Regions from separate parts of the Homo sapiens genome. Here region 2 is linked to region 1. Evidence: fine-mapped expression QTL. Tissue or cell type: whole blood. Region 1 holds a variant in brackets; the other region holds the start of a gene. All regions are shown on one strand. Distances are from middle to middle.

The links. PIP is the estimated chance that this variant, and not a neighbour inherited with it, causes the effect.
Region 2: ZNF154 starts here. The variant in region 1 is fine-mapped to the expression of ZNF154 in whole blood (INTERVAL, PIP above 0.99).

The regions. Positions count from the first base shown.
Region 1 is chr19:57,656,707-57,661,915 of GRCh38, forward strand. It overlaps a transcript of ZSCAN4 not described here. Among named protein-coding and RNA genes, the nearest start is that of ZSCAN4, 9.6 kb to the right of the region's middle. The variant C/T (reference allele first, on the strand shown) is at 2,985.
Region 2 is chr19:57,706,884-57,711,993 of GRCh38, forward strand. ZNF154 (zinc finger protein 154) reads right to left here and starts at 2,321. Exons shown (of 3, transcript NM_001085384.3): 1 at 2,056-2,321. The coding sequence starts at 2,088. RefSeq lists enhancers at 1,909-2,548, 2,292-2,421, 2,442-2,501.

The DNA.
Region 1 (5,209 bases):
TAAATGATGAGTATTCAGAATACGTAAAACATCCCTACAAATAGCATAAACAACACAATTTAAAAATAGGCAAAAGTTCAAGACCAGCCTGGGCAACATGGCAAAACACTGTTTCTACAAAAATTAGCTAATAAGCTGGGCATGGTGGTGTGTGCCTGTGGCCCCAGCTACTTGGGAGGCTGAGATGGAAGGATCACTGATTCCAGGGAGGTCGAAGCTTCAGTGAGCTATGATCAAATCACTGCACTCCAGCCTGGGCAACAGGGTGAGATATCATAGCTGTAATTCCAACGCTTTGGGGGGCTGAGGAAGGCGGATCACTTGAGGACAGGAGTTCAACATCAGCCTGGCCAACATGGTGAAACCTCGTCTCTAGTAAAAATACAAAAATTATCCGGGAGTGTCCAGGAGTGGTGGCAGGCACCTGTAATCCCAGCTACTCAAGAGGCTGAGGCAGGAGAATTGCTTGAACCCGGGAGGCAGAGGTTGCAGTCAGCTGAGATCGCGCCACTGTACTCCAGCCTGGGCAACAAGAGTGAAACTCCGTCTGCCCTCCGTCTGTCTGCAACAGAGCTAGACTCCATGTCAAAAAAAAAAAAAAGGCAAAATATTTGAACACATTTTTCACTAAAGATGATATATGAATGGTATATAAATGCATGAAAATAAGTTCAGAATTATTACTATTTAAGGAACTACAAATGAAAACCACAATGAGATACCACTACATACTCATTTTGATGAGTAACATTAACCGAATGATCACACCTAGCTGTTGAAGGTATGAAATAAACTGGAGCTCTCATACATTGCTGGTGGAAATGCAAAATAAATAAATTTGGAAAACACTGTAGCCGTTATTAAAGTTAGTTGTCCACTTATCATTTGATAAATTAATCTCATTCCTAAGTATAACCTCAAGAGATGGAAACGTGTCCATAGAAATACTTGTATAATCATTCCTCAGTATCCATGGGGGACTGATTCCAGGACCCCCAAGGATACCAAAACCTGAAGATGTTCTAGTCTCTTATATAATATGATGTGGTATTTGCATATAACCTGTGTATATCCTCCCACATAATTTAAATTATAATTTAAATTACTTATAATACCTAATACAATGCAAATGCTGTTTAAATAGTTGCTATACATTGTCACCTAATACAGTGTAAATGCTGTTTAAATAGCTGCTACACAATAGTTGTATTGTTTAGGGAGTAATGACCCAAAAAAGGTCTGTGCATGTTCAGTACAGATGCAATTTTTCTTCCAAATATTCAATTTGCAGTGGGTTGAATCTATAGATGCAGAACCCATGGATATAGAAAGCCAACTGATTTTGCGTGTTATCAACAATTTTCTTCAAAGCTAAAGACTGGAAAACAAAAACAAATGTCTATGCACATCTGAATGGGTAACTGTGTTACATTTATAAATAGAATATTCCTCATAAATGTCAAGGAGGGAAAAAAACATTAATCTGAATCTCAAAAGCACAAGTGAAGGAACCAAACTCAGAGGTCTATACAGAGTAAAATTTCTTTCAGATAAAAATCTAGAAATGGTAAAACTCAAGTGGCAAAATGCAAATGAGTGATCCTCAGATCTGGGCCTAGGAGGAAGGGGCGGACTGCAAAGGGCAGAAGAGTACATAGGGTGAGGAGAACCTTCTCTATCAGGATTGTGGTAGTGGTTACATGCTGTTTATATTTGTCAGCACTCATCAAATTATACACTGGAAATTGGGGATCATCCTATTTGTATTATACTGCACTAAATTTGTTTAAGGAAAATAATAATACACACCAAAAATATTCACGGCTCAAGAAGTAATATACTTCCTGCCGGGTGCAGTGGCTCAGGCCTGTAATCCCAGCACTTTGGGAGGCCGAGGCAGGTAGATCACCTGAGATCAGGAGTTCAAGACTAGCTTGGCCAACATGGCGAAACCCCGTCCCTACTAAAAAGGCAAAAATTAGCTAGGCATGGTGGCACGTGCCTGTAATCCCAGCTACTTGGGAGGCTGAGGCAGGAGAATCACTTGAACCCAGAAGACAGAAGTTGCAGTGTACCAATATCATGCCATTGCACTCCAGCCTGGGCAGCAGAGTGAGACTGTGTCTCAAAAAAAAAAAAAAAAAAAAGAAGTAATATATTCCCAAATTGCTCTCAAAAATACTCTTCCTTAATCTTATAAAGAACATCTGCAAAATCCTAGAGTAAATACAATAACTCATGGTCCATTATTAAAATATTTTCGGGACCAGAAACCAAAGGAGGATGGTCACTGTCTGCACATATAGTCAATTATATTGAAAGTCCTGTCTCATGCAATTAGGTGAGACAAGAAATATATAATCTGTAAAGAAGAAAGAAAGCTAAGTTCCTCGCCCCCTTAAAATATATCTTAAATGTCATTTTCACTGTAAGTCCTACTATGAACACCTGATTTACTGTTTCACCCCATCCTTACCAACTTTACTTCTCAGCTGTATCCTGCTCTATAGGACCCATCATTTTCTAATACACTATCAGCCGAATAACATGGGTGCTTTGCTTACTGCTTACTGTCTGTTTCTATCAACTAAGTCTAAGTTCCATGTAGGCAATTTTCTTTTTAATTTTGTGTGTTGATATACCCCATATAATGAAAAAATGACCTGACCCACAAAAAATATGCAATAATTTTTTTTGAGGGGCAGAGCCTTGCTATGTTGTCCAGGCTGGAGTTCAGTGGCATGATCACAGCTAACAGCAGCCTCGAACTCTCAAAACTCTTGGGTTCAAAGGATCCTCCTGCTTCTGCCTCCCAAAGTGCTGGTATTGCAAGTGGGAGCCGCTGCACCTGGTCTCAATAAATAGTTTTTGAAACACTGAAGAAATATGACATACCAATTTCCTATTCATTTTTACCTCTCCAGAAATTCTGTCTAATTCATTCACTGTCTCTACCTTCAAGTTACCTTTGTTCTATGGGATGA[C/T]TAAAAAACTCACACACAGCTCTATATTCTGCTACCAAAACCTTCAAAGCGGCCAGGAATCCAGCAGAGCCATATTCTCACCTTCATTCTCTTTCTCCTTAGATCTTGCTGTCCTCTGCTTACCTACCCTACAGATCAATTTTATTTTTACTTTTTCATTTTTTCCTACATAGGGTGCTCCTCAGCTACTTCTGTCATTCCTATTAGATATCTTTATGATTCACCATTAATAGTTTCAGTAATATACACAATACTCAAATGTTCTTCGCAAATAACCTCCATTCTCCTTACAGATGGTCGCTGCAATTACAGGTGAAGTGATAACCACTTCCCAGCAAAAAGGTGAGATCAGGGAGTTCCAAATCTTTATCTCAGGTTCAGATGTCCTTTCCACACCTGTACAGATGCCGTCACTCCATCATTCTGACACCAGATGCCAAGTGAGTAACTCATGCTTTTCAAGTAAGTTTCAGGTCCTTAGATGGAAACTATCTCAGAAAATTCAGTATTAATTGTTCTCTGTAAAACATTTCTGGGTTTGGAACACGAAAGAGTTTATATAGCAGGAAGGTCATTTGCTGAGAAAACTAGACACACATAGCATCCTGTCTATATGCCACAGATAAAGACTTGATGCTACAGACATGTTAAGAACAGTTAGATGACAATGGTAAGCTCTTGGTACTGTGCAGATACCTGGTGTCTGTGAGAGAGGTGCTGATATGTGCATTTCTTCTGTGAAACAGCAGGTTGTGCAAACTGGAATCTGTAATGTCTCCACATTCTGTCATCAGCAGAAGACTCTGAACATTTTTCTACCGTTTAAATGAGTCTCAATTATCCAATTTATAATAATGCAAATTTTACTTACAGATAAATATGGGGGAGTAGAGGAGGGTTGTGAGTTTCAGCCATGAAAAATTCATGGAGCTTAAAAATTCCTAAGTATCTCACCCTGCAAACAGATAATTATATTTCTAAAAGTGTCTTGACATTCTCATTCTCATGTACTCACAGTACTCTTCTCTATCCTCAAAGTTTCTGAATTGCTTCTCTGTTCCTGTCTCCTCTGTTATTCTGCCTCCCTCCTCCCTTCCTTGCCTAGTTTAAGTGGATTTTTAGCAAACAAAAGTGTTGACTAGAGGCTGTGAGTGAAGGGCATTTTTACCTCCCCTGGCCCCCAGTGTAGATTCCTCTTCTGTCTACACAGAATCCTTCAGATCAGGATAAAATTGAGCCTTCCTTACTAGTTACTACGATTTTTGAAGAATTGGTGTGATTGATAACCACAGCAACAGTGTTTGGACTTTAGAGAAACTTTATTCATGCCCACACTATGTCTACTGACCTACATTTTGTTACTTAAATTCATTTTAAGATTTCTCTTCCAAAAGTTTTCCAGTTATTCTCCTCTTTTGATTCATTGATCCCCTATATTTTTATTTTACCAGTAATTTCATAACTTCTCTTAATATTAAAATATTTTAATGAATATTTGGAATAAACGTATGTGTCTATGGTGAATACTCACTGGGACACACTATACCCCTCCTTCTTCCACAACCTCAACCTAAGGAAGGAACACTGTCTACAAGTGGTGAGGATCCTTCCAGATAGATTTCCATTAATTTACATAAATTTTGCAAGATCTCCCTTAACTCACCTCTGCTTGACTTACTGCTGAGTAAATTCTTTCTCCATATTCCCTTCATGTAACGTGCTAATCAGTGACCATAAATCACACATGATTGTTACTGGTAGAATCAATGCTTTCAACTCCAACACGTCTGTCTCCACAGGTTGATGTATATATTTATCAACAGGGAGTTTTCTCCTCCCAAAAGTAATGCCATTTGCTCTATTTATTCAATGGCATAAGTGGTTTACTGTAATAAAAACTACTAAACTATAATCACAAAAAGGAAAACTTTTTATTTTTATAAAGCCTAAATAAAATGTGCCAGAAACAAAAATTAGAGATTCTTTAAAAATGCTATTGAGGTAAAAGTGAGTGATAAAAGTAGACCTGTATAAATACAAGTCTGTGAATATTCTGTACTCAGAATTTTGACATCTTTAAGTGTTTTAGCTTACTTTAAAGAACTACCATGCTGGGCGCGGTGGCTCACGCCTGTAACCCCAGCACTTTGGGAGGCTGAGGTGGGCAGAAAATCTGAGGTCAGGAGTTCAAGACCAGCCTGGCCAACATGATAAAACCCGTCTCT
Region 2 (5,110 bases), 50 kb after region 1:
GGTGGATCACCTGAGGTTGGGAGTTCAAGACTAGCCTGACCAACATGGAGAAACCCTGTCTCTACTAAATAAATACAAAATTAGCCGGGCGTGGTGGCGCATGCCTGTAATCCCAGCTACTCGGGAGGCTGAGGCAGGAGAATTGCTTGAAGCCGGGAGGCGGAGGTTGTGGTGAGCCAAGCTCGCGCCATTGCACTCTGGCCTGGGCAACAAGAGAGACACTCCATCTCAAAAAAAAAAAAAAAAAATAGAACAACCCTTCTAAATGTAATCCACAGCTCACTCACCTTAGTCCACACAATGACCACCACATTTTGGATGTCTCCATTCTGAAGCACTCCCCAGATTTCCAGACCTGGGTGTTCAGCCACCTACTTAATGCCTACTTAATGTCTCTGAAACATCTCAAACTCTTACATGACCAAATAAAGCTCCTGTTGTCTCCAGTGAATATTACTGTTAATACCAACTTCTCCATCTCAGTTGAAGAACCATGGGGTCATCGCTGAATCCTGTTTCACTCCCTCGCTGTCTACATCAGAAAATTTAGTTGCTCCCTTTAAAAATTTGCATCCAGAATGCAACACATCTCCTAATCAATGACTCTGGTCCATTACCCTGGACTGGCTGTAGCTTCCACTCTGATCTTCTTTCCTCTTCCCTCAACCCCACAGTCTGCTCTCCACGCTAACGGGATGGACCCTGTTAGGACTTTGGTAAGATCACCTCCCTCTTGTAACCCAAATCTCTCATTACCTCCAGAATAGGTACCCAACTTCTCAGGCAGCCACTGCAGTCCTGACTCCTTCCCCCTGCTCTTTGTTCCCAGCTAAAAGGAAACAGATCTATGGTTTCCTCAAAAATCTCAGCTTAGTTTTACTAAGCACTTGCGCCTCCTGATACCAGTGCCAGAGATAACCTTTCACAAGTTTCCACTGGCTGACAAAAATGGGAACACCTCAGTATAACCCCTGTAACCTCTGGCATGGACTTAAGAGCCCTGGGCTTGGAATTTCTCCAGGGCACCAGACCCAGGATTGGGGTAACAGCACTTAAGAATACTAGGAAACCACAATCCCAAGAACATGGGGGTAGAGGCTACTGAGGGACCGAACACTCTCCACTTCCCTATGTGAGTTCCATACGCCCTTCTACAACTGGGAGAACCAGGGAAAGAGGAATGCATCCCTGGTGAGGCTAGATGAGCTCAAGCCTCCCTGTAGCCCTGCCTGGCCCTGAACTCAGGCTGGCTGTTTTACTTTCTGGTCTCAGTGCTGTCACCTCTTGCCAACTGTAGGGCAATGAAAAAAAGATGTAGCCTCCCACTATCTCAATGTCCTCATCGCCCCATCGCTGCTCTTCCTGTGAACAGTCTTTGGAAAAGTTTTTAAACCCTAACATAGGGCGGGCACGGTGGCTCACGCCTGTAATCCCAGCACTTTGGGAGGCCGAGGCAGGAGGATCACTTGTCAGGAGTTCCAGACCAGTCTGGCCAAAATGGTGAAATCCCGTCTCTACTAAAAATACAAAAAATTAGCCGGACGTTGTAATCCCAGCTGCAGGCTTGTAATCCCAGCTGCTGGGGAGGCTGAGGCAGGAGAATCGCTTGAACCCGGGAGTCGGAGGTTGCAGTGACCCGAGATCGCGTCATTGCACTCCAGCCTGGGCGATAAGAGCGAAACTCCGTCTCAAAGAAAAAAAAACTAACATAAATGGCGTCCCTCCTTTGTTCAGAACTCTCCGTGGCTTCTAGCATCCTCACAATGACAGTACAACCCTAGGAGTAACTCCGCCTCATATTCTTCGTTCCCTGCAGAAAACAGCTTTCCGAATTCTCCTGGCTCAGTCGCGCCTCAACCTTTGCACGCGCCGGTTCCTCCGCCTGTCACGCTCTCCCACACCTCGTCACACGCAGTGTCAAAAAAAGGGCCCCACCCACGAACGCCTCAGTGTCCCCGACCCTGGGCAGCGGGGACTCGAGCAGGCGCCCCTCACTGATGGCTTTAGAACGTGGGTGGGGGAAGGTGTGTGAGGACGGGAAGACGCCGCACTCACCTGAGTTGGCGTCCTCAGAGTGGCCGCTGCCATCAGACTCTGCGGGTAGAGCTGGGCCGGGAGCGACGGGCGACATTGGTAGGGACCCGGGGACAGCGGTCCCTATCCCAGGCCTGACGTGGGTCCCCCAGGGCGGCGTCGCCAAGGCTTAGACGCTTTCGTGCAGGAGGGACGACGACTCCCCTCACGCCTTCGTGGCCCCAACTCGGCGCTCTGCTATCTCTGATCCGGTGAACACACCTCAGAGAAGCTAAAATGGCCGCCACGAAGAGGCCCCCCCAAAAGTCCCGTCCTTTCTTTTTGTGACTCTCAAGGAAAGTCGGTTTTCTGAGCTCTTACTGGCTTAGTAGCGTGGCGTTCAACGCAGAGCATTCTAGGTAATGTAGTTTTCATAGATCCCGAGGTGGGTGCCGGGGACCCTTTGCACCAACCTCTTGGAGTAAAAGCGAAGCTCCAGGGCGCTGGGCGATGAGAAATGGCTTATCCAAGTCCTAGGGCAGTGGAGGGACTTCGCCCTTTCTTAAATGGGTCGTAATCAGACAGCATATTAGAGGTGCCATCTGCAACTGATCACCCAAGTGTTTGGGGAATATTATTTCAAACTTCATAAAGTTCAGCAGGCTCCCAGAGGCTAAAATTATTATCAGACGCTCCCTAAGGCTGCCAATCCAAATATGTACATCATTCCATAGAGCCATTCAGACACGAAATATATCCACTAGTAGGGAAGCTAATAAACATTACCATATAAGTTTATTCCTTTTTTTTTTTTTTTAAGACAAAGTTTCCCTCTGTCCCCCAGGCTGGAGTGCAGCGGCGCCATCTGGGATCACTGCAACCTCCGCCTCCCGGGTTAATCGATTCTCGTGCCTCAACCTTCCAAGTAGCTGGGACTATAGGCGCGCGCCACCACGCCAGGCTAATTTTTTGTATTTTCAGTAGAGACAGGGTTTCACTATGGTGGTCCCAAATTCCTGGCCCCAGGTGATCTGCCCGCCTCGGCCTCTCAAAGTGCTGGGATTACAGGCGTAAGCCACCGTACCCAGCCTCTATCATATTACATTTCAAATGTATGCACTCCGAAGCATTGAAGTCAGTCTGTGCACTTTTGGTCAGGGACAGGTGAAAAACTACTTCAGATAGTGGCATGATAGTGCTTCTAGAAGATAGAAGAGAAATGTTAGATCACCTTGAAACAGTAGTACAAAGGTAGAATTCTGTCTGATTCCAACAGAAAACATCTTTTGCCTGCATAGTCAATTATTGTGTCCAATTACTGTGTCCAGTCAATAACTGTGTCCAATTCACTGAGCAACGCTTTTATCCATTTCATAATTCTTACTTGATATCTGAGATATATTCCTTCTAGAAGTCTAACATCAATCTCAAAAAACAATGAAAGAAATGCTACTTTGATAAGAGACAAAGGGGAGAGGTGGGACTTCTTAATCAGAAAGCCGGTGAAATGCACTTGAAGGAAGTGAGAAATGAGCCATGTGGGTATTTTTAGAATAAATTCCAGGCAGAAGAAGCAGGTTACTAGAGTGCCTGGATGGATGGAGACTTCACAGGGCATTTCAGCATTGGAGGGCCTAGGGCTCCAACCCAGCAGGCCTTCATCTGCTTTGCTGGCTGCAGAGACACTCAGGGTATATAGGTGAGAAATCTCTTCTTTTTTTTTTTTCTTTTTTTTTGAGATGGAGTTTCACTCTTATTGCCCAGGCTGGAGTGCAATGACGCAGTCTTGTTTCACTGCAACCTCTCCACCTCCTGGGTTCAAGCGATTATCTTGCCTCAGCCTCCCAAGTAGCTGGGACTACAGGCGCACGCCATGACACCCAGCTAATTTTTGTATTTTTAGAAGAGACGGGGTTTCACCATGTTGGCCAGGCTGGTCTCGAACCACTGACCTCAGGTGATCCACGCATCTCGGCTTCCCAAAGTGCTGGGATTACAGGCATGAGCCACCGAGCCTGGCCGAGAAATCTCTGCTGCTTTGTTATAAAGTTTTGGAGCCGCAAAATAAATAGCACTCGAATATAAAATTTTCTTTTTAATTCTCAGCAAGGTAATGTACTTTTTTTTTTTTTTTTTTTTTTGAGATGGAATCTTGCTCTGTCACCCAGGTTGGAGTGCAGTGGCGCGATCTCGGCTCACTGCAAGCTCCGCCTCCCAGGTTCACGCCATTCTCCTGCCTCAGCCTCCCGAGTAGCTGGGACTACAGTTGCCCACCACCATGCCTAGCTAATTTTTTGTATTTTTAGTAGAGACAGGGTTTCACCATCTTGGCCAGGCTAGTCTTGAACTCCTGACCTCATGATCCACCCACCTCGGCCTCTCGAGGTGCTGGAATTACAGGCGTGAGCCACTGCGTCCGGCCCCAACATTTATTTTAATGTTCAGATTCTCCCAGATGTTTGGACAGTGGGAACTCATTAAAGCTGTGCTCTCTGCTTTTTTATGTCAATATTATTGATAATTTCATTACTTTCTAATCCAAAAATATTTTCAGGCTCATGTTGTACCCTTGCTATCCCAGCCCCAGAATCAGCCTCTTTTTCAAGGAGCTCTGGTTTTCTTCAATAGATAACAATGCTTGTAAATATTAGTAAGCATTAGCTGTGCTCTTTTCTACTGGTAAATCATTGATTATTAGGTCCTCTTGGAGAGAAAGCAGATACATACACATGCACGCACACATTTTTTTTTTTTTTTTTGAGACAGAGTCTTGCTCTGTCGCCCAGGCTGGAGTGCAGTGGCACGATCTCGGCTCACTGCAAGCTCAGCCTCCGAGGTTCACGCCATTCTCCTGCCTCAGGCTCCTGAGTAGCTGGGACTACGGGCGCCTGCCACCACGCCCGGCTAATTTTTTGTATATTTTTAGTAGAGACAGAGTTTCACCGTGTTAGCCAGGATGGTCTCGATCTCCTGACCTCGTGATCCGCCCGCCTCGGCTTCCCAAAGTGCTGGGATTACAGGCGTGAGCCACCGTGCCCGGCCACTTGCACACATTTCTATACAAATTTATTTCTACATCTATATTTACATCTGCAAA